Linked DNA regions of Homo sapiens. The protein of the gene in region 1 purifies or fractionates together with the protein of each later gene. This does not show direct contact. Each region holds a gene or a part of one and is shown in the gene's direction. Other genes may lie near its edges.

Evidence for each region.
Region 2: the proteins of C17orf75 (region 1) and ZMPSTE24 fractionate together in Homo sapiens (co-fractionation; one large-scale study listed by BioGRID). This does not show direct contact.
Region 3: the proteins of C17orf75 (region 1) and GPNMB purify together in Homo sapiens (affinity purification with mass spectrometry; one large-scale study listed by BioGRID and IntAct). This does not show direct contact.
Region 4: the proteins of C17orf75 (region 1) and SLC35G2 fractionate together in Homo sapiens (co-fractionation; one large-scale study listed by BioGRID). This does not show direct contact.
Region 5: the proteins of C17orf75 (region 1) and PDIA5 fractionate together in Homo sapiens (co-fractionation; one large-scale study listed by BioGRID). This does not show direct contact.
Region 6: the proteins of C17orf75 (region 1) and C3orf18 fractionate together in Homo sapiens (co-fractionation; one large-scale study listed by BioGRID). This does not show direct contact.

The regions. Positions count from the first base shown.
Region 1 is NC_000017.11:32,335,674-32,339,173, reverse strand, and holds part of C17orf75 (protein Njmu-R1), read left to right. Parts: intron 1-822; coding exon 823-966; intron 967-1,219; coding exon 1,220-1,277; intron 1,278-3,500. UniProt on the Homo sapiens protein: As component of the WDR11 complex acts together with TBC1D23 to facilitate the golgin-mediated capture of vesicles generated using AP-1. May have a role in spermatogenesis.
Region 2 is NC_000001.11:40,264,736-40,268,235, forward strand, and holds part of ZMPSTE24 (CAAX prenyl protease 1 homolog), read left to right. Parts: intron 1-3,050; coding exon 3,051-3,137; intron 3,138-3,500. UniProt on the Homo sapiens protein: Transmembrane metalloprotease whose catalytic activity is critical for processing lamin A/LMNA on the inner nuclear membrane and clearing clogged translocons on the endoplasmic reticulum.
Region 3 is NC_000007.14:23,245,610-23,249,574, forward strand, and holds the start of GPNMB (transmembrane glycoprotein NMB isoform b precursor), read left to right. Parts: upstream 1-1,165; 5' UTR 1,166-1,248; coding exon 1,249-1,318; intron 1,319-3,965. UniProt on the Homo sapiens protein: Could be a melanogenic enzyme.
Region 4 is NC_000003.12:136,817,660-136,821,925, forward strand, and holds the start of SLC35G2 (solute carrier family 35 member G2), read left to right. Parts: upstream 1-1,466; 5' UTR 1,467-1,969; exon of another isoform or gene 1,970-2,853; intron 2,854-4,266.
Region 5 is NC_000003.12:123,143,525-123,147,024, forward strand, and holds part of PDIA5 (protein disulfide-isomerase A5 precursor), read left to right. Parts: intron 1-1,997; coding exon 1,998-2,068; intron 2,069-2,574; coding exon 2,575-2,735; intron 2,736-3,500.
Region 6 is NC_000003.12:50,561,248-50,564,747, reverse strand, and holds part of C3orf18 (uncharacterized protein C3orf18), read left to right. Parts: intron 1-3,000; coding exon 3,001-3,026; intron 3,027-3,500.

The DNA.
Region 1 (3,500 bases):
AGGCTTAAACATGAGCATTCTTAGTCCAATTCCAACTGTCTTTCCATTACACCTCTCCTTTTTTGTTTTGTTTTGTTTTTTTTAAGACAGAGTCTCACTCTGTTGCCCAGACTGGAGTACAGTAGCATGATCTTGGCTTACTGCAACCTCCGCCTCCCTGGTTCAAGCAATTCTCCTGCCTCAGCCTCCCGAATAGCTGGGATTACAGGCATGCACCACCATACCCGGCTAATTTTTGTATTTTTAGTAGAGATGGGGTTTCACCATGTTGGCCAGGCTGGTCTCGAACTCCTGACCTCAGGTGATTCACCCGCCTTGGCCTCCCAAAGTGCTGGGATTACAGGTGTGAGCCACTGTGCCCGGCCTCCATTACACCTCTTTATTCTAGTTCAACTCAGACCGTGAAGTTAGCATACAGGTCCTCAGGAGTTTGAGGCCACTTCCCAAGGATAAGGCCACCTTCAGGCACATCTGCCTTAAACATCAATTTGTGAAGCTTTGGGAGAGGGGAGAACATACTTTTTTTTAATATAAACATGGGTATGAACTAGAGTGAAATTTGTGTGAATTTTTCACATAAGACAGGAGAATTCAAAGAAATTTCATGTATGTTAGTGGCTGCTTTAACTAAAGCCCTCCAGGGTATACATTCATTTTTCTTTGCTGCTGCAAGTACACCAACGAGAAGTCTGGGAAGCTCTGAGTTAGTGGGCAGTTTAATGGTGTTGCCAGATCAAGATGACCAGAATTCAGAGCAGTCCACAAAATTATAGATGCATGAGTAACCAAAATAATGCATTTTACATTTTCTTTCTTTTCTAGAATTCCAGGTTACCGAGTTGGTTGTTATTACTGCCTTTTCCAAAATGAAAAACTGCTTCCTGAAACAGTAACGATAGACTCTGAACGTAACCCTTCAGAATATGTGGTCTGTTTTTTAGGAGGGTCTGAAAAAGGACTTGAGCTATATCCTTTCTTTGGTTTTTGAGAACATCAGGAAGGAAAACATGGGAAGGCAGGTGGAAGAATATTACTACCAACCTCCAAAAAGCTTTTCTACTCCTCGTGTATTTAGTTGAATTTCATACCTTCATGTGGCCATTTTGCCTTGGCTTGTTTGCATTTGCAGCTCACATTATTTGAGAGATTTTATATTTCTTGTTGAGAGATGAAATACTGTCTTCATTATTCATCCTTTATTGCTTCCTTAAGAACATACTTTCAGGCTTGAATTGGACAAGTACATTCAAGGGCTGAAAAATAACATGAATTGTGAGGTAAGGTGACTGACTTAATGGTTTTTAAAGACTGAAATGGGGCCAGGCTCAGTGGCTCACGCCTGTAATCCCAGCACTTTGGGAGGCCGAGGTGGGCAGATCACAAGGTCAGAGACCAGCCTGGTCAATATGATGAAACTTCATCTCTACTAAAACTTAGCCAGGCATGGTGGCAGGCACCTGTAGTCCCAGCTACTTGGGAGGCTGAGGCAGGAGAATCGCTTGAACCCGGGAGGCAGAGGTTTCAGTGAGCCGAGATTGCACCACTGCACTCCAGCCTGAGCGACAGAGTTAAAAAAATAAAATAATGACTGAAATGATTAATATACTGTGATTGCTCTACTTGTCAAATCATATAGGTAGACACAAAGACGCCTGTATTCTAGAAACTTGCCACCTTGTGAGCTAGTAGAGAGGTGAATTTTTTTTTTTTTTAGACAGGGTCTTGCTTTGTTGCCCAGGCTGCAGGGCAGTGGCGCGATCAGGCTCACTGCAGCCTCAGCTTCTTGGGGCTCAAGCAGTCTTCTCGCCTCAGCCTCCTAAACAGCTGGGACTACAGGCAAATACCAACACGCCTGGCTAACTTTTGGTATTTTTTGTCGAGATGGGGATCTCACTTTGTTGCCCAGGCTGGTCTAGGATTCCTGGCCTCAAGCAATCCTCCCTCCTCAGCCACCCAAAGTGCTGAGATTACAGACACGAGCCATTGTGCCCAGCCTACAGGTGGTTTCTTTTTCTTTTTCATTTTTTGAGATAGGGTCTCACTCTATCACCCAGGCTGGAGTGCAGTGGCACGATCATGGCTTACTGCAGCCTTTTCTGGGCTCCAGCGATCCTCCCACCTCAGCCTCCCAAGTAGCTGGTACCACAGGCATGCACCACCATGCCCAGCTAATTGTATTTTTGGTAGAGGTGGGGTTTTGCCATATTGCCCAGGCTTGTCTTGAACTCTTGAACTGCTGAGCTCAAGTAATCCACCTGCCTCGGCCTCCCAAAGTGCTGGGATTACAGGTATGAACCACTGCACCCAGCCTACAGGTGATCTTAAAGGGATACAGGAAACATAGTCCTGTAAGTGCTGAAAGTTTCACAAGACTACGTCTGATGTTTTGTATCTATGAAAAATTCGATCTATTCAATGGCATGTAGTAACATGCCTGGCGAGGAAGAGGATGTCCTTTTCCTGATTTCTAGGCATATAAGATTTATATTATGGTCAGAAGTACTGGTCCATGCAGCCTCTGGCACCAAAGACATGCTATGCAATAGTATGGCTGTTCTTGAACTAAACATCAAAGATTCTTAAAAACATTCTATTTTCATTAATTGATCTTTTATGAATTAGGCATATCCATATCAACTTATTCAAACCTTTGAAAAACTGGCTGGGTGTGGTGGCTCACACCTGTAATCTCAGCACTTTGAGAGGCCAAAGCGGGCAGATCACTTGAGCCCAGGAGTTCAAGGCCAGCCTGGGCAACAAAGTGAAACCCCATCTCTACAACAAATACAAAAATTAGCCAGGCATGGTGGCACGCACCTGTAGTCCCAGCTACTTGGGAGGCTGAGGTGGGAGGATCGCTTGAGCCTGGGAAGTTGAGGCTGCAGTGAGCTATGATTGCACCACTGCACTCCAGCCTGGATGACAGAGTGAGACCCTGTCTCAAAAAAGCAAACAAAAACAATGCTTTCAGCTTGTAGCAGTTGTTAGTCATGACTCTCACAAATTTACTACCCATTACATATATAGTAGAAGTTATACTTTTCACATACTTAGAAGATACTGCAGGAGAGAGGAAGGGATAGTGCAGGAGTGAGCAACTGATGCAAGTCTAATAGAGTTGTTCTCCCGGACTAGAGCTCTTCGTGTGTGACACTAGTCTTCAGGGAGCAGTATAGCCTAGAAAGCCAGATGTGCTCACGGTAGCATGTCTGACATCTGGAGTGGAGTGGAGTGCTTTGATGAGTTACTTGTATCCTTCCCCATTCACATTCTGAATACGAATGAATTCTCTATCTACATGACTAATTCAAAAGGCACTTAATAAGCTCATACTATGCATGTTTTAGACACTGTACCACAGGTGCCAGGGAAATGAGGATTATTGAGTGAGTATCTCCATTGAGTGCACAGTACAGTGGGAGGAGAGGGACTTGTGAGTGCCCAACTCTTCCCTGTGAAGAAATAGCATGGAACCCTATTCAGTCTCTTCATTTTATAGA
Region 2 (3,500 bases), on another chromosome or scaffold:
TGAGTGTGGTGATGTGCACCTGCAGTTCTAGCTACTTGGAGGCTGAGGTGGGAGGGTTGCTGGAGCCCAGGAGATGGAGGCTGCAGTGAGCTGTGATCACACTGCTGTACCCCCGCCTGGTGACAGAGTGAGATCCTGTCTCAAAAAAAAAAAAAAAAAAAAAAAGAATGTAGTGAAATAATATATGTCAAAGCGCTGGAATTATTTTTTCTGGGATCATTAATTTTGCCATAGAACAACCCTGGGAGCATGCTTAGTGAAATTGTCAACATAGAGACATTGTACAGTTCACCATGCTTTGTTTTTCAGTCCCCAAAAGAAACTAAACATGCTTTGTTTTTCAGTCCCCAAAAGGTTTGCAGTATCAGTTTTCAAATGCATTTATAGATCATTCAGAATTCATATTAAAACTACCCTTGATGCTTATTTAAATACTGGACTTTTAATAATAGTTGCTGTGGCCTTTACTAAAAGCATTATAAGTCCTTAATTATACATTATTTATTAGTATTGGGAATTGGCTGAAAGAAATACCATCCCAGGTCAATTAGATCAACAACTACAGCATATGTCAGACAGTGGTACCAAAGCATGTCTTTTGGGAAAACAAGGTTTATGTCTAAGATTGAATTAGTTGTAGTAAAGTGGAAATACCTGGAGGTAGTGTTAGGGGAGCCTTTTGAAAAGCAATTTATTGGGGCTGAGTGCAGTAGCTCATGCCTGTAATCCCAGCACTTTGGGAGGCCACAGTGAGAGGACTGCTTGAGGCCAGCCTGGGCAACATAGTGAGACCCCATCTGTACAAAAAATTAAAATTAGCCAAGTATGGTGGTGCATACAGTCCTGGCTACTTGGGGGGCTGACATGGAAAGATCCTTTGAACCCAGGAGTTCAAAAATTCAGTAAGCTATGATCATAACACTGCTCCCTAGCCTGAGTGACAGAGTGAGACTCTGTCTCTTAAAAAAAGAAAACAATTTATTAAAGCAATGATTTTCAAACTTTAGTGTACATCAGGTTTACCTAGAAACTGCTGGGCCCCACTTCCAGCTTCTGATTTGGTACATCTGGGGTAGGGCCTGAGACTTTGCATTTCTAAGAAATTCCCAGATGCTGTTGCTGCTGTCCAGAGACCATATTTGAGACCCATGATATTAAACCAATCCAATGTACTGGTAACAGTCTAAAAGATGGATAGTTTAAAGTGTGGGTGAGATTGTGGGAAAACAGAAACACTGGAGTACTGCTGATGGGAGTGTAATTTGTTATAAACACTTTAGGAAATATCCTGATAATACCAAATAAAGTTGAAGTCCACCATGGATGGATCTAAGAAAATTTAGAATATAAAAAGCAAATCATAGACTGATAAGTATAATATGATGTCATTTATATACATTCTTTAAAAGCATACATAAATCACTATATTATTTGTAGATACATGTATGAAAATGGGAATTAGATTGGAAGGGTACCCATGAAATATGATAGTACCAAAACCCCTCAAACCATGAGGAACTATGTCTGAACCAGTGGGAATATTGTGCTTCTAGTCAAGGAATGTGATTGATCATTGTGTTCCTAAGCTGCTGTCCTACAGAGAGAAAAAATAAATTGATTCCTCTTGACAAATGAGTTCCACAAAGTTGTATGTGTTTTGGGCGGTAGAATTCTTAAACATGCATTCTTCTCAAATTTTGAGCTGCTTCCTAGCTCCTAATGTCCTGGTTATTTAGTGAATGTCTGTGTTCACTTTATCTGCCCAAGACCAAGACAAAGGGTGGTGCTGAGGAAGAGCCTTCTCCTGTGAAAGCCGGGCCCCTACCTCACCTCTTCCTGACCCAGCAAAGACACAGATAATCCCATTCTGTTCCCCAGTTTAGTAAGTGGACATGACTCTCCACTTCTGTGCTTTGTTCTGATGGAAAAGGACTATTTTCTTTCACAGAAAAGACAATTATGGAGCCATATTAATGTGGTTCAAATTCCATTTCTATCACTCATTAGCTGTTGGATTTCGAACAAGTTTTTTTTTTTTTTTTTTTTTTTTTTGAGACAGGGTCTCATTCTGTCACCCAGGCTGGAGTGCAGGCACGATCATGGCCCACTGCAGCCTCGACATCCCAGGCTCAAGCAATCCTTCTACCTCAGCTCCCCCGAGTAGCTGGGACCACAGAATCATGCCACCATAATTGGCTCATTTTTGTATTTCTTGTAGGGACAGGTTTCACCATGTTGTCCAGGCTGGTCTCGAATTCCTGAGCACAAGCAATCTGCCTGCCTTGGCCTCCCAAAGTGCTGGGATTACAGGCATATGCTACCATACCCAGCTGTTTAACCTTTCTAAGTTTAGTTTGTGATTTTGTTGTGGTCTTTTGACAAAAGGTTTTTTTTTGTTTTGTTTTAGAACAGCTTTATTGAGATAATTCATGTACCATACAATTCATATACCATACAATTCATCCATATATAGTGTACAGACAAAAATGTTATATTAACCACCTAAATTTAGTATCTCAATGGTTAGTACTCATCTAAATGCATAATTTATGCTAAATGTGAAATAGGTCTATTTTTTAAAAAAATATTTTATTTTGTTATTTTATTTTATTTTATTTTATTTTATTTTATTTTATTTTATTTTATTTGAGACAGGGTCTCAGTTTATTGCCTTGCTGGAGTGCAGTGTCACAATCACGGCTCACTGGAGCCTTGACTTCCCAGGCTCAGGCAATCCTGTCACCTCAGTCCCCCAAGTAGCTGGGTCTACAGGTACGCACTATCAGGCCCAGCTAATTTTTAAATTTTTTGTAGAGATGGGGTCTCAACTCACCTTGTTGCCCAGGCTGGTCTTGAATTCCTGGCCTCAAGCGATGCTTCTGTCTCAGTCTCCCAAAGTGCTGGGATTACAGGCATGAGCCACCGTACTGGCCTCTTTTGTTTTTTTAATAGAGATGATTATTTTGTCCTTTCTTTCTTTATACCATGCTTTCTCATATGATAGTTTCTAGTACTGTTCAACTGTGATCAAAGTATGCTTTGTTTTATAGCTTATTCTTCTCTTTGGAGGAATACCTTATCTCTGGAGACTTTCTGGACGGTTCTGTGGTTATGCTGGCTTTGGACCAGAATATGAGGTATGTGATTCATTAGCATGTATTTGTCATGGTATTTCTTTTAGCTTGGCAGGCTTTCCACTAAAGTTAATTTTTTGGCTTCTGCCAATGTTAAGATTTGCCTCTCTGTTTGCATAGTCCTTGGTTACCCATGCTGTATTGGCATAACATTAGTTACAATAACAAATCCCAGAATATCACAGGCTTATTTGCAATGGTTTATTTCTCAATCACGTAATAGTCCAGTGTGAGTATTTTTAGTTATCAGGTGACTTTCTTCCATGTGGTAAGCCAAGAATCCAGGCTCTTTATCTTAGGGATTTGTCTGTATGATTTAAGGTACCTTTCATATAGTGCCTGTGTAATAAAAAAGGAATTGTTTTG
Region 3 (3,965 bases), on another chromosome or scaffold:
ACTGCACTGAAAATGGCCATGTGAATGTGAGTTTGAGAAAGGTCACATATGGTAAAGTTTTCATGTTGCCACATTTTCTGCATACTCTGTAACCAGGAATGATTTGACTGTATAAATTTATCTTACAGACACACTTGTTTGTACATTTAATGCCTGCTTTCTATAATATGAAAAAATACACAGAACGTTTTATGCAATTGGCTCTGAGTAATGCAACACATAAATGCTTTGAGAGCAGTTACCAAAAATTATGCAGGTTATTACAAAAGTTATATGGAATTGCACAGATATTCTAAATGTGCTTTTGAGTAAATTTCTCAGCTACCAGAGGCCTGGGCAGCTGTTTCCAGCACATCCTGGCACAACATTCATGTTATCATCCACTTATGTATTCCACAATTTCAAATGATTGATAAGACACCTCCCCCATCTTTGCTTCCTCTTGGAGGAAAAAAATATACAAGCAATCACGAGCACAGGAGCAGGTGGACAACTACATCTTAGGAAAGGGTGCGTAACTGTGAACTCTAAACGTGAGCTGGGTGCCTGATGCAGTATAGGAACCACAGTAAGTCGATAATCAGTGAGGCTGGAGGATTGAAATTTTATTTGGTAAAGAATATTGAGCCAGGCGCGGTGGCTCATGCCTGTAATCCCAGCACTTTGGGAAGCCGAGGCGGGCAGATCACAAGGTCAGGAGATCGAGACCAGCCTGGCCAACATAGTGAAACCTGCCTCTACTAAAAATACAAAAAATTAGCCGGGCATGGTGGCGGGCACCTGTAATTCCAGCTACTCAGGAGGCTGAGGCAGGAGAATGGCTTGAACCTGGGAGGTGGAAGTTGCAGTGAGCTGAGATCGTGCCATTGCACTCCAGCCTGGGAGACAGTGTGAGACTCCATCTCAAAAAAAAAAAATGAATATTGAAATAGAGTCTATAGGAAAAAAACTCCTTGAATCTAGTAAATGTGGAATCACAAAATTGAAATAATGTGCATCTGAAAAGTGAATAAATAGATGCCAAGAAGGAGTGAGTCATAAGCACATGAGTTGTAAGAGGTTGAACTTGAGAGACCAGATCAGGCAGTGCCGCTTAATACCATCACATGATCCTCCCCGAGGCCCTGTATTTAATTAAAATAGAGAGGGAGGCACCACAGATGCCAGAAGAACACTGTTGCTCTTGGTGGACGGGCCCAGAGGAATTCAGAGTTAAACCTTGAGTGCCTGCGTCCGTGAGAATTCAGCATGGAATGTCTCTACTATTTCCTGGGATTTCTGCTCCTGGCTGCAAGATTGCCACTTGATGCCGCCAAACGTGAGTAACCCTTAATTTCTATGTTTAACCCATTCTCTGGCCATTGGCTGAAATGATGGCTAATAATATCCTCTGAACTAGAGGTTGGACTGAAGTTCTTCAGGAAGCTTTCATCTCTGGCTCACTCATCTCTTCTTCTGCAAACTGTTGGGAAGGCTGAAACTACAGCAAAATGCCTCCAGCTCCATTCTTTGCTTTCGGCTCATGGAAAGTAAAAACTATGCTGCCCTTCTCTTGTGAAGCTTCTTTTCCATTGCAATTGCAACCCATTCTTGCCAGACAGTGGTTGGGGGAGGGTTGGACAGCCTCCGGCCACAGAACAAAGCAACTCCACCAACTAAACTATGTCCAGCTTCCATCCAAAAGGGTGGAGACCTCACATGAAATGGGGTCTCCAATCTGGAGGCAAATTTACGAATCTCCCCAGCCCTGAAGCTATTGCTCCTCCTGCGGGGCTTCCTCACAGACCTGCAGGAGCTTGCTGGGAGAGGAGCTGAAGCCCAGGCTCTCTACCCTGGTCAGGCAGGAGAGGCCAGGGCATTTTTAACAATACTGATACCCACGCAATGAAACCGGAATCTTTGGGAGTGGGGTCAGAGGATCCTTGTTTTAAAAGTTCCTCTTGGGATCTGCCTATGCAGCCAGGGTCCAGACCACTGAAGCAGTGTGCAGATTCGCGAGAGGAAGAGAGCTGAGCCGCTGTAACCCTGGGCCTGGGATTGCGGGGACGGGACGGGTGGGAAGCGGCCAAAGGCGCAGCGGCTTCTGGTCAGAGCCGCAGAGGCCTGAGACGTGGGCCGCGCCCCGGCCCAGGAGACCCCGCGGCCGCGCCCTAACCCTCAGTCTCCCGACTGCGACTGCGACCCGGGAAAACGCCTACGTTTTTGGAAAGGAAGTCCCATCACAGGGAGCTGACCCGGTGTCAGCGCGCAGCACGTTCCCGGCCCGCAGTGCGCCGCGCGTCCTCCTAGCAGCCCGCGGAGCCCGGCACTGTGATGGTCCCGCTTCCCACACGAGGCCACGGGCCACAGAGTGGGCAAGGAACTCGCCCCAAGCCACACAGCGGGTAAGTTGAGGAGGCAGCCTTCCATCCCGACCTCTGTCCTTCCTGCCCGGGTTTGGGGTTGGACAGGCTCGGGCTCCCCGCCAGCCTAGGGGCTGGGTCTCCAGTGGCTTTGCTCCATTTCCTCATTTCCTTCAAAACGAGGAGTTTTCGTTTCCTCATTTGCAAAACTGGGTAATTGTGTTCTTGTGAGATCAGCTGCTTGGCGTGAGAGACGTGCATGGTGGGGATTGTTCCTACGGAGGCAGACCTGCACCCACCCTCAGGATACCTCCCAGGACAGGCTACTTTAAAGACGAAGGAACACAGAATAGACCCGATGGGGGACACCTGCTATTATTCCACCCTCTTTCACCAGTCCACTTCGCTCTGCTCAATAAAACAGATTAGCAGGAGGCCGAATCAGCGCTGTCAGCTCGAGAGGAGTCCTCAGCCTCTTGGGCAGTGTAACAAAACCCAGCCATTCACCAGGTTCACCTTGCTCTGGACTAAATATTCTGCCCAGAAAAAAATAAGGGCAGGCAGAATGTAGCAGTGTATCAAGCACTAAAGATTTCCTACCATTTTCCATTCGTAGCCCTGAAGGAAGGAGAAAGTGTGGACAAGGTAGGTGGAGGCAGCCCAGCCACCACCTCTCTGCTGGTGGACACAGCAAGGATGCCAAAGTGTGGAGGCAGAGTCGGCTGCAGCACTGGGTGCGACCTCAAATTTACCTTCACATTGATTGCCCCCAAAACCCACCCCCACAGGCTTTTATTTTTCTTTTAAAATCTGCTTACTATTGGGTTTTTTTTTTTTTAATCAATTTTTTTAGAGACAGGGTCTTACTCTCACCCAGGCTGGAGTGCAGTGGTGTGATCACAGCTCACTGCAGCCTCCAACTCCTGGGCTAAAGGTGATCTTCCACCTCAGCCTCCTGAGTAGCTGGGACCACAGGCACGTGCCACCACACCCAGATAATTTTTGTATTTTTTGTAGAAATGGGATCTTACTACATTGCCCAGGCTGGCCTCAAACTTCTGGGCTCAGTCCTCCCTTGGCCTCCCAGAATGCTAGGACTACAGGCATGAGCCACCTTATCCGGATGGGTTTATTTTATTTTTTAAATTTTTGTAGAGACAGGGTTTTGCCATGTTGCCCAGGCTGGTCTGGAACTCCTGGGCTCAGGCAATCGCCCACCCTCAGCCTTCCAAAGTGTTGGGATTACAGGCATGAGCCATTGCATCCGGCCTTTATTTTTAAATTCAACTTTTTATTGTGAGGTATTTATAGATTCACATACTGTTGTAAGAAATAATACAGAGAGATCCCCATGCACCCTTTACCTGGTTTGCCCCAGTGGTATCATCATGCAAAACAGGACATCACAGCCCAGATATTGACATTGATACAGTGAAAACACAGCAGAGCTCCATCACCAAAGTATTCTCATGGCTATAGATGTATAGCCAAATCTACTTCCCTCTTTCCAAACCTCACCCAGTCCCTGGCAACCACTAATCTGGTTTCCATTTTTATCATTTTGTAATTTCCAAAATTCTATACAAATGGAATTATCCAGTATGTAACCTTTTGAGATTTGCT
Region 4 (4,266 bases), on another chromosome or scaffold:
CTTGTTAAGCACACTTGTCAGACACTGTTTCCAGGACTCTCTTAAGTGTCCTAAGAATATTGACTCATTCAAAAGCAGCCCAGCTGTAGTTGGGAGAGCACCAGCACTTGCTCTATAAAGATCTAGATTGTCTCTCTACCTCAAGAGGAATCCAAAATCCTGTTATGCTGGACTCTGAAATGATCCCCAGCCCTTTGGTGATCACACTGTTTATGAGCAGTCTGAATTCCATTCTTGGGTCTACCTAAACTAGCACCCTCGGGCTATGGGGCCCAGTGGGGAGACCACCTAGCATGCTGGCTGCCTGGAGCCCAGGGAACTGTCAAGATGGCTCTGGAAGACTTCTCGCCTTTTAAAAGCCCCGTATTTCTTTTACATATATTTTTGTCCTCATGAATTTTGCCAACCGCAATGGACTAAAATCTATTATAGCGTCCTGGAAAGGTGGGGAAAAGATGGGATAGTTGAGGAGAGTTTAATGAAGGGACTATTTAAAAAGGTGTGGATGGGGTTAAAGGAAACCTCTGGGCGTCATTACCCACTCCAGGCCTGAAGGGGCAAGGGTAGTTAGTGGTAACCAGAACCTGGAGAAAACTGCAGGAGAGGGCCACAGGATGGGAGTAATGGCTTTCAGATGAAGAACATAGCCACTGCTAACAGGGTGGCCCGCTGGGGATGCAGGGGAGGTCCTGAATCACATCCTGCCTTCTGATCTGCAGGTGCCTCCCACTTGCCAAAACCAATTGAAAGCCAGATTATAGTTGACGTAGCCCATAAAGGTCAGTCCTGAGTCACAGAGCAGAGTGGAGAGTGGGTCTGAAGGGACAGAGGAAAAACCAGCAAGCACCTCCTGTTTTTTCCCACAGCCAGCACCTTGGTTCAGCCCTTACCCTTTCTTGCCTGTCCCCTGGACCCATCAAATCCACTGCTTTTAATGACCAGTCTGTTTCCAAGAGGCTATATTCATTCCACTTGGGACTGGGGCATATGCACTTGGGTAGAAGAACCAGCTGTGCAGTGTCAAGACCCTTCCCTCAGAGACCTTATCAGTAAAATGGCGGGTGGACTCGGGGATGCCCGAAGACTTTTCCGGACCACGATTTTCCGATGCTGGACACATATTTAAACATGAAGGAATAGACTTGCGACTTTTAAGCGCAAACAATGGGTGGAAATGGACAGAAACTGCCTCCGTGCCCACTTGCAGCGGACTACGTAGCCCTGGCAGACAGGCAATTGCTTCAAACAAGCGCCCTCCAAGGGCGTAAGCTAGAGGGGCCCGGGCGGGCGCTTTCCCGTGGACCCTCCCACCTCGCGGGTAGAGGAAGTCCTTCAGTTCAGGCACAACCCTGAGCGTCCCCCGCAGTCTCCAACTCCGGCGCCAGTCAGGTTGTGGGGTGGGGGCGGCGGAGGGCGGAGAGCGCAGGCGCAGAGTCCGCGCGGCGGCGCCCCTCTCCCTCCGCAGTACTCCGGGCAGCGCCCGCCTCGATTTTCCCAGGCGAGGGCACGCCCGCGTCAGTCGCCTCCGGGGCACCTTCCTCGCCACGACACGCAGGTAACCGGGCCCCGGGAGCCGGTCGGCGGCGGCGGACTGGGACCTTGATCCTGCCTGCCCGGCCGCCCGACAAGGGAATGAGAGCGGACCCCGAACTCCACACACCCGCGTTTAGCCGCCACACCTAAGGGGCACAACAGTCTTTTTGGGTAAGGGCCGGGCTGGGGGCGACGCGCCCCGCCCGCTTTGCAGACTTCGGGGTGCTCTGCACGACGCCTGAAAGGCCGCGGGGCCCGCATTTCTCTGTGCTGCCCTCCTGGAGAACCGGGACACGGGGACGGGAGGGCCAGCATCGGCTACGGCCCGGTTTCCCGTTTCTTTCCGCTGTCGCGTGTCTGGGCCCTCCTGCAGCGTCCATGATGAAGGCCAGGGGCTGTTGCTTTCCTCTCGCCCAGTAGCCAACCCAAGCAAGGGGTGAGTCACTGTGGCGTCATATGGGATCAATTTCAAATACAAGTTTTAAAAAAGGCTGGATGATTTTAGAAATATGGCCAAGAATTTGTATTTTCCATTACTCTCTTGTCTCATGTCCATGACTCTTGAACGCCAGTCTGTGGGCGCTGAGATTTTCGTGGTACATCGACGGTTTGTAGACATCTTTTCCCAAGGGAAGACGAGGGCAAGGGTTAGTGGAGGAAGGGCCTCGTCACGGCCGAGAGTGGCGGAGAAGGCTCAGGGCAAGTCCGCACAGCCTCCAGCAGCCACGGGGAGGAAAAGGCGAATCTTTCCTCACAGTGCTCTGGGCGCTGTAGAATTTCTACGCCACGTGCACCCATTTGGCCTCATTTGAGAGGAGGAGAGGGAAGAAGGGTCGCGCGGGCCGGCAGGAAAGAGACTCGTGTTGCGGCGGATGAAGGCTCAGCGCGGACCTGCATCTCGGGCCAGGTTTTCTTTCACCCGGCTCCGCGAGGAGCGAGGCGGAAAGCTCGGGTCCGAGTGTTGATCGAGGACCTGGAGATAGTAACCCCCCACGTCCAGAGTGCTGGGGGTGGGTCCAGAGGGCTGGGGGTAGGTCCAGAGGGCTGGGGGTAGCTCCGGAGGAGCGATCTTCCTCCGCGGGAAAGGACTTGGCTCAGGCTTGCCTATGTCCGTGGTGCTGAAGTGCCTCGCGCGCCCTCGTCGACTGACTTCCTGGGCCGCGGCCTGCGTTGCCCTTCTACTCTGCACCTTTGCCAAAAATAGCCCATCTCCATGGCTGGTGGCCAGAGTGGAGCAGGCCCAACACTGAAACTCTTTTCAGACAAGTTGAGGCTGGTTTCCTGAACATAACCCGAAAGCAAATGTGGCTTGCCTTGGAGGTACAGATAAGCATATGCATAACAGATTTTATTACCTATGAGAAAGTACACACCATGAGCGTAAACAGGAATTCTCACATATACTTATGAAAGATACAGGTATGTGCATTTACGCACAAACCTAACACACATGCAAATACACTCATCCCTTTTGAAAACCATTACACACTACAAGCCACACATTTTTTAGAGCTTTTGTAATCCATCTTTATTTTTTGACACTTCTAGTAAATGTGAACTCTGCAGAGCCATTTATTTTCATAATCATCTGTTCCAAAGGCACAGAGCCTGTGGATTGAAGTGTTTGGTATTTGGCTGAGCAATTAAGTATTTATACTCATTTACATTCCAGAACAAAAGTCTAGGAAGATGTAAAATTGATATTGATACCAAAAAAATTCCTTAAAGAAAGCTTAAGGAAAATGAATTAATGTAAATTTTAATAAGAACAACATATAAATAATCATAGAAATTTATAATCTTAACATATGACTAAAATGTATCATAATGCAGACAATTTTAAATATATTGGTGGTATGTGGTTTGTGTGAAGTTCTTAAAGTTTACATTTGTATTTTTCAAAAACATTGGTATTGTTTTTTCCTTAAAAAATATATGCTCATTATAAGAATTTTAGGTAATAGAGAAATGCATAAACATAGAAAACCATTGTAAACAGATTTTCATTTAGATGAACATGCATACATTTTAAATGGACCAATCCTCTATTGGTTGCGTTTTTGCTATATAATTTATAATTAATGTCTTTCATCATAAAACTAGGTCATCATTATTAAGGGTTGCATAATATTGATCTGTGTGGATAGAATGTAAGTTTTTTAAACAATCCCATAATGAACATTTATGTCCAATTTTTTAGACTTAAAAAAATTATTGTGGAAAGAATATGTAACATGAGATCTATCCTCTGAACAAAAAAAAAATTTTTTTTTGAGACATTGTCTTGCTTGTTGCCCAGACTGGAGTGCAGTGACGTGCTCTCCGCTCACTGCAACCTCTGCCTCCCGGGTTCAAGGGATTCTCCTGCCTCAGCCTCTTGAGTAGCTGGCCACCGCACCCAGCTAGTTTTTATATTTTTAGTAGAGACAGGGTTTTACCATGTTGGCCAGGCTGGTCTTGAACTCCTGTCCTCAGGTTATCTGCCTGCCTTGGCTTCCCAAAGTGCCAGGATTACAGGCGTATGCCACTGCACCCGGGCCTGCCTTCTTAACAAAATTTTACGTGTATAATACATTATTGTTGATATGTATTGTTGATAGGTGCAATGCTGTATAGCAGATCTTTAGAGCTTATGCATCTTGCTTGACTGAGACTTTATGCCTGTTGATTAATAACTCCTGATTTTCCCCTGCCCTCCAGTCCCTGGAAACCACCATTCTACTCCTCGATTCT
Region 5 (3,500 bases), on another chromosome or scaffold:
TTCCTCTGGTTCATCCCTTGAAGGCATCATGTGTGCCACTCTATTCCCCTCTGGACCAAAGACCATGGTCCTCTCTGTCATTATGCTGGAAGATTCTAAGGGCTGATGCCTTTTCTACCCTTTCTTCTGCATCATAGCCCAACAGGAGTAGGCAGCTCCCTAGATAATGGCAGCAGAGGTGCCTGTATACCCAGCAGTTCCTCCTCTTCTTGTTGTGGAGCCTCCCACTTGAGGGTTAGCAGTGTCTCTCTTCCTTGGATCCACCTGGGAAGAGCTGACATGTTGATGTGGCTAAGCACTGTAGCCACTCCCTGGGCTGCATTCCATGAGGGTCAGTGCCCTTGACCGAGTCATGTCTCCAGTGCTCTGTCCAGAGGAGGAGCTTCACAACACTGCCTGGGAGCTCAAGGATCAGTTTGGTTTTCTGTTATCAGTTAAGTGGGGAGTAGCCACTCCGGGGTCCCTTGTCCCTGGGAGGGACAGGGTGAGGATGAGCTGAGGAAGCCAGGTACAGGCAGGAGTGAAATGGAGAGATTAAGAACGAGACAGGTTCATGTCTCACCTGGAGCTGAGTTCTGCAGAAATGGCCTTGGAGGAGGAGACAGGAGCTTTCACCCCTGCCGGGTGCTCAGCTGGAGGCAGGAAAGCCGATTCCGTAGCTCAGTGGGAGGTCTCCTCTGATTACACTGTTTGACTTTCTGTCTTGCTTTCTTCTTGTCTTTCTTTTTCCTAACAATCAGTAGTAGAATTATAGCGTTCTCAGCTCCCACACAGTGGCACACCCCTGAGAAGGTTGAGTCACGACCTGTCATCCGCTGATCCTAGTTAATGCATGGTCCCCGCACAGCCAGGCTTACCTTCTGAGCAGCCTCCATCCTGAGCCAGTCTGCAGACCCCTCACCTCCCAGTCCCTCCAGCATCAGAGGCCAGAAAGTACTCTTTCTATTAAAATGAAAACAATGTACAAATGTCAAGGTCTGTCATTTACACAAAGTGCTTAATTTCTTTTTAATGCATCAAATTTTATTATTTCTGACATCTTACTGTGTTCATGCAGCTGTAAGAAAAGCACAGAGCAGGCTGGGCGCGGTGGCTCACGCCTGTAATCCCAGCACTTTGGGAGGCCGAGGTGGGTGGATCACGAGGTCAGGAGATCGAGACCATCCTGGCTAACACAGTGAAACCCCATCTCTATTGAAAAAGTACAAAAAAAATTAGCCGGGCGTGGTGGCGGGTGCCTGTAGTCCCAGCTACGTGGGAGGCTGAAGCAGGAGAATGGCATGAACCCAGGAGGCGGAGCTTGCGGTAAGCAGAGATGGCGCCACTGCACTCCAGCCTGGGAGACAGAGCAAGACTCTATCTCAAAACAAAAAAAAAAGAAAGAAAAGGACAGAGCAGTTTCTATCCCAAAAAATTCCCATCATGTCATATGGGGACAATTAGAATGTAATTATGTCCCATACTTATGCTTCTGTGAATTTTTGTGCCCAGCTCAAGGCCTCAGACTGCCTTCTGTCCAGAGAAGATGATGATGGTGATCACAGCATGGTGCCACAACCTACACGCTGCCTGCAGCTAGGGCCTCTCACCAGATGGTTGGGTTTTCAACCCAGCTCTGTGACCATGGCTGTGTATATGGCCTTGGGCAGTCACCTGCCCTCTTGGTGCCTCAATTGTCTAATCCATAGAATGGAGATAATGTCAGTTCCTACTTTGTGGGGTAGTTATGAGGCTGTAAGGCACTGGTCAGTACCTGGCACACCAGTTGCCCGTATTATTTATGCAGTTGTTTTATTTTTGTGTCTGGGGTACCTTCCCACTACCCCAACCCACTTCTGGTGGATTATGCAAAATATTTCTTTTCTTTGAGCTGGTGCTGCTGCTGCTTTTCTCAGGTGTCTGGGAATGGGACTGAGCTGCCTTACAGAGGCGGCGCAGGGGAGCATCCCGAGGGCCTCTGTGCCATAAGAATGGTTTCTCTTGATCTCTCCCCACAGGGTGTGGCCACTGTAAGAAAATGAAGCCGGAGTTTGAGAAGGCAGCAGAAGCCCTCCATGGAGAAGCGGATGTAAGCTTCCTTTCCTTCCCCCTCACCGTTCTCTTTGAAAGAATCACTGACAGGTGGAATCATTATGACTTTCCCCTGCAAGCCCTGCTGCAGCTCCCGTGGTCCGTGGAGGCCAGCAGTACCTCTGTGTGCCCAAGTAGAACATCTTAGACAGATGGGATCCTAGAGGGGGCAGAAAGACTACTGGCCCATGTTCCCGTGCCCATCCAGGTGACCTCTGCCTGCTCCCTCTTTTCTCTGGGACCCTGGCTAACAGGAACAGGTGCCAATCTACTCAACGTGGCTGGTGGGGCAGATTCAAAAGCCTCATCTCAGCTCATAAATGAGAAATGATGGCCGTGCCAATGTTCAGTTGTTCCCTGGGATATGGGAGCCCACTGGGCTAGCCACCCCAGTTAAATTCCAGCAGGTCCAGGATGGGTTGTGGGGGCAGCGTCTGGGCTCCTGTGTTCCACCAGCACCGCATCTGAGGCTGTAATGCATGGTTGGCCTTTCCCCCATCCCAGAGCTCTGGTGTCCTTGCAGCTGTCGATGCCACTGTCAACAAGGCCCTGGCAGAAAGATTCCACATCTCAGAGTTTCCTACGTTGAAGTATTTTAAGAATGGAGAGAAATACGCAGTGCCTGTGCTCAGGACAAAGAAGAAGTTTCTCGAGTGGATGCAAAAGTAAGTGTTACGATCTCAGTAGCACATCCTAACTGCCAGCTGGCGGCCCCTGGAGACCACCTTGAGGAGGTGAAGTAAACTTTATGGTCAATGTCCTGGGCTCATGCCCGTAGGAGTCAAGACGGATCTGACTTCCTCAACCCTAAAACCACCGTTCATATGCTGATCACGTGTCTTGATCAGGTCACTGCTGGCAGTCCTTCTGGACGCAGCTTCATCGACGCACTAAACCGTGTGTTGCTTTTTCTCTGTCTCAGCCTCCTTAGGCCCAGATCTTATTGTCTGCATTTTATTCCACTCCCTTTGAATAAATGAAGGAGACACAGCTCTTCATAGCCAGAGCTAGACTCATTTCGTCCAGGTTTGCTAGTGGTTGGCTGGGCCTCCAGTAATGTCCACAGGGCAGGCTATGGTGGTTTGCAACTGAGGATAAAGATTTTGAAGAGCCCCCTCAGCCTATGTATTAGTTTGCTAGTGTTGCCATAACCAAGTAACAGACCAGGTGGCTCAACAATATAATATAACAATATAACAGAAGTTTATTTTCTTACAATTTTGTTTTGTTTTGTTTTGTTTTGAGACAGTCTCACTTAGTCACCCAGGCTGGAGGCATGATCTCGGCTCACTGCAACCTCCACCTCCCAGGTTCAAGCGATTCTCCTGCCTCAGCCTCCCAGGTAGCTGGGATTACAGGCACATGCCACCATGCCTGGCTAATTTTTTGTATTTTTAGTAGAGACGGGGTTTCACCATGTTGCCCAGGCT
Region 6 (3,500 bases), on another chromosome or scaffold:
GGCTGTTGGCAGTGAACATTCATTTATTCACTTGGCAATTATTTACTGAGTACCTGCCCTGGACCAGGCCTTTGGAACCCAATAGAGGCTGGGAAGACAAGGTCCTGCCCTGTGGTTCTTACAGGGAGTGGGAAACAGATAAAAACCAAGGGTTCCAAGGGAAGCCTGCAGGGACTGACTTGGGGACTCAAGCAGGAAAGCAGGAATGCTTTCCAGACTAGGTGGTTAGGAACAGCTGAGGAGCAAAATTAGAGCTGAGACCTCAAAGTGGAAGCCTGGCCTCCGTGTCATGAGAAGGGGTGGAGGTGGCAGCCATCAGGAAGGAAGGGGGCTGGGGAGAGGGCTGCAGGTATCCTTCAGTAGTGAGTGTGATGCCTCTTGATCTGGTGTCAGTCCCTAAGGATATGGGCTGTCCCCCTAAGATGATACATGGACACTCAGAATGTCACTGAGGGACCACTGGAGATCGTGCAGGCTGAGACTAGGGAGGATGGGGTGCCCCTGAGGTTCCCCAGTATGCCTGGCAATGGTAGGATTCTGCCCACTGCTCCTCGCAGGCTCTGATGGCTGGCCTTGGGCTTAGGAGCATGTTGCTCTGACAAGTAGGGCTGTGGATGGCCCATCATGGCCTGGTTGGAGCTGCTGTTAAACCAGGGTTGCCATATGGGCCCCACAGGCTCCAGATTGCTGCCAGGGAGCAACTGCCAGCCAGCAAGCAGGCCCAGGGTGCAGCACAGGCAGAATGAGGCCAGGGCCTGAGAGGTCTCCTGGGTGGAGGTAAGGCAGGATGCCAGTGTTTTCCCTTGGCACCCATGCAGTGGGTAAGCAGATGGAGGCACCCTTAAGGGCAGAATGGGGCCTAGAAACTGCCCTCGTTACTTTCAGTGAAAGGTTTTGTCCTTGGAACTTGAGAACGCTCTCTTACTCTTTGTTCTAGAGGAACATTCAGAAGGCCTGGGTGGATGCCCCTCTTGCCAAAATCAGAGGTAGGAAGCTCGTAGGACAAAGGCAGCGGAGGGCAGAAGATAGCTCCTGGGGACCGGAGACAGGCCCAGAGGTGCTCACTGAGTGCTGCTTCCTCTCCCCGATGCCAGCCTCAAGCAGGGCCGTGGGTACAAGGAGGAGCAAATCTGCACCAGGCTTTCTGCCTTACCCAGGAAGGAAAAGTGCTTGGTACAGGCAGACCAGGATCAGTGGTGGGGGAGGTTCCTGGAGGAGAGGGGGCTGCACCTGCTGGACAGTGAGGGGTAGGGAAGATTTGGAAAGGAAGGTGTGGGGGTGGCTGTTAGCTGAGGAAGAGGGGAAAAGGCATGGAAATTGCGTAAAGGTTCTGGCCTTTTCTGTAGATCCTTCTGAATCCCAGGGTCTCAGGGGAGGGAGGAGGGCTTGGGGCAAGGGCTGAGAGGTGGGGACCACAGGGGCTGGGGCTGGGGCTGGATCCACTTGCTCAGGGTGGCAGGGGCTAGGCCAGAAGACCCCAGAGTTCCTGTCACAGCCTACCCACAGGAGAGCAAGGGAGCACCCCTACATGCAACCCTGGACAGGAGGGGAGAGTGAGGATTGATACCCTAGTTTCTTTTCAGGTTTTGGGGGTCCTGCAGGAGGAGCTCTGGGCCAGGCTGGAAATCAAACCAGATTCAAGCTGTGAATGGGGCACAAAGAATGTGGGAGGATTTGGGGTAAACCACAGGGCTGTGCTTTCCCCGAGGCAGAGGTAGTCATGCTCCTGGTAGTCAGAAACTGCCAGTTTAGGGAAGAGCAGGATGATGGCAGAAGTCCCTGGATTCCCCGCCCAAGGTGGTCCCCCAAGTCTTACCCACTTCCTCCCTCTCCTCAGGGCATTGTACAGGGTTTCTTACTCTGGCCTAGAGGTCCTAGATGTTTTCTCAGGCTGCCTAGGCCCTCATCTTCAAGGTTGTACAATGGGGGACCGGACCTAGGGGCCTTCTTAGGTTCCTCTTGCATCAGAGTTTTTGGGAGTTGACCTGGGCTGATGCCTAGGGGCTCCAGTCCCCCACCCCTACCTTAGTCCACTGGGGGCCGTCAGCCTCCCATAGGAACTCCGGAGACCACCAGCTCAGGGCCTTGCCTAGAGCCACTGCTCTACACGCTACAGAGTCTGGCCACTGCCTGTCTCTGGTTCTTTTTACATGTTGTAGAGACGGGGTGTCAGTATGTTGCCCAGGCTGGACTTGAACTCCTGGGCTCAAGAGATCCTCCTGCCTCAGCCTCTTGAGTAACTGGGACTACAGGCATGTGCTACCTTACCGGGTCCCTTTACTTTTTGCCTGCATGTGGCTTTGAGCCTGGGAAGAGTTGAGGGGAGGGAATGTGCTGAAGTTTTCCCTTTCTTCTTCAGCCCTGGGGAGCCACAGGCAGGTGCTGAGTGGCTGGAGCTACAGTTAGTATTGGCAGCCCAGCCAATAGGTGGGGCCCACCAGTCCCCAGGCCGGGCCTAACTGTGTGGGCTCCCAGGCTGGAGGGAGCCTCTTGAGTCCCCAGACTCAGTCTGGGCACTGTCTGCAGCTAACAATGTCAAAAGGAGGCATGGGGCCAGTGTGGTGGCTCACGCCTGTAATCCCAGCACTTTGGGAGGCCGAGGCGGGTGGATCACAAGGTCAGGAGTTCAAGACCAGCCTGGCCAACATGGTAAAACCCCATCTCTACTAAAAATACAAAAATTAGCCGGGTGTGGTGGTGCACACCTGTAATCCTAGCTACTCAGGAGGCTTAGGCAGGAGAATCACTTGAACCTTGGAGGCGAAGGTTGCAGTGAGCCGAGATTGTGCCACTGCACTCCAGCCTGGGTGACAGAGCAAGACTCTGTCTCAAAAAAAAAAAAAGAGGCATGAAGGTGAAGGGGGAGTGGTGTATGTGTCATTAGGACGGGGACCCACGGGTCTCTTGTTCATCAGCCTCAGCATGTCCCCATCCAGAAGGGCTGCTGGGTTCCTCAGGGCCTCCTCTCCTTGCCATTTGATGCTGCTCCTTCTCTTGCAGGTTTTGTACATCAGGAAGAAGAAGAGGTAATTCCCCACCCAAACCCAAATCCCACCCAAAACTTGAGGCCATGGGGAGTGCTGGGCTGGGCTCCGAAGGAAGTGGGTGAAAAGCTGATCAGGGAGTCAAGGCCTGTCCTGCCCATTCATGGTTGGGGGTGACCACTTTCCTTTGGGGAGGGTTGAGGGCCCCCCTTGCACAAGGATCTCACACACAGGGCAGGCAGGTGTGAGGATTCTAGATAACTGGGTATAATCCTGGGACTGGGGATGGCAGGGAGGGGGAAGGCTGGGATTACTCCCACCCAACTGCCCAGCCACCCTTGCCCTGCTGCTCTGAGCTGACTGCTACTGGCTCCCCAGTCCCACCTGAGACTCAGACGCTGTGGATTACAGCAAGGCCCTAGCCTAGGTGATCTCTGTGGGGCCCATGGATGACAGCTACTTGGCGTATGGCCTTACCCTGGAGTGGGTAACTGCTGCCTCCCTGGCTACCCATTT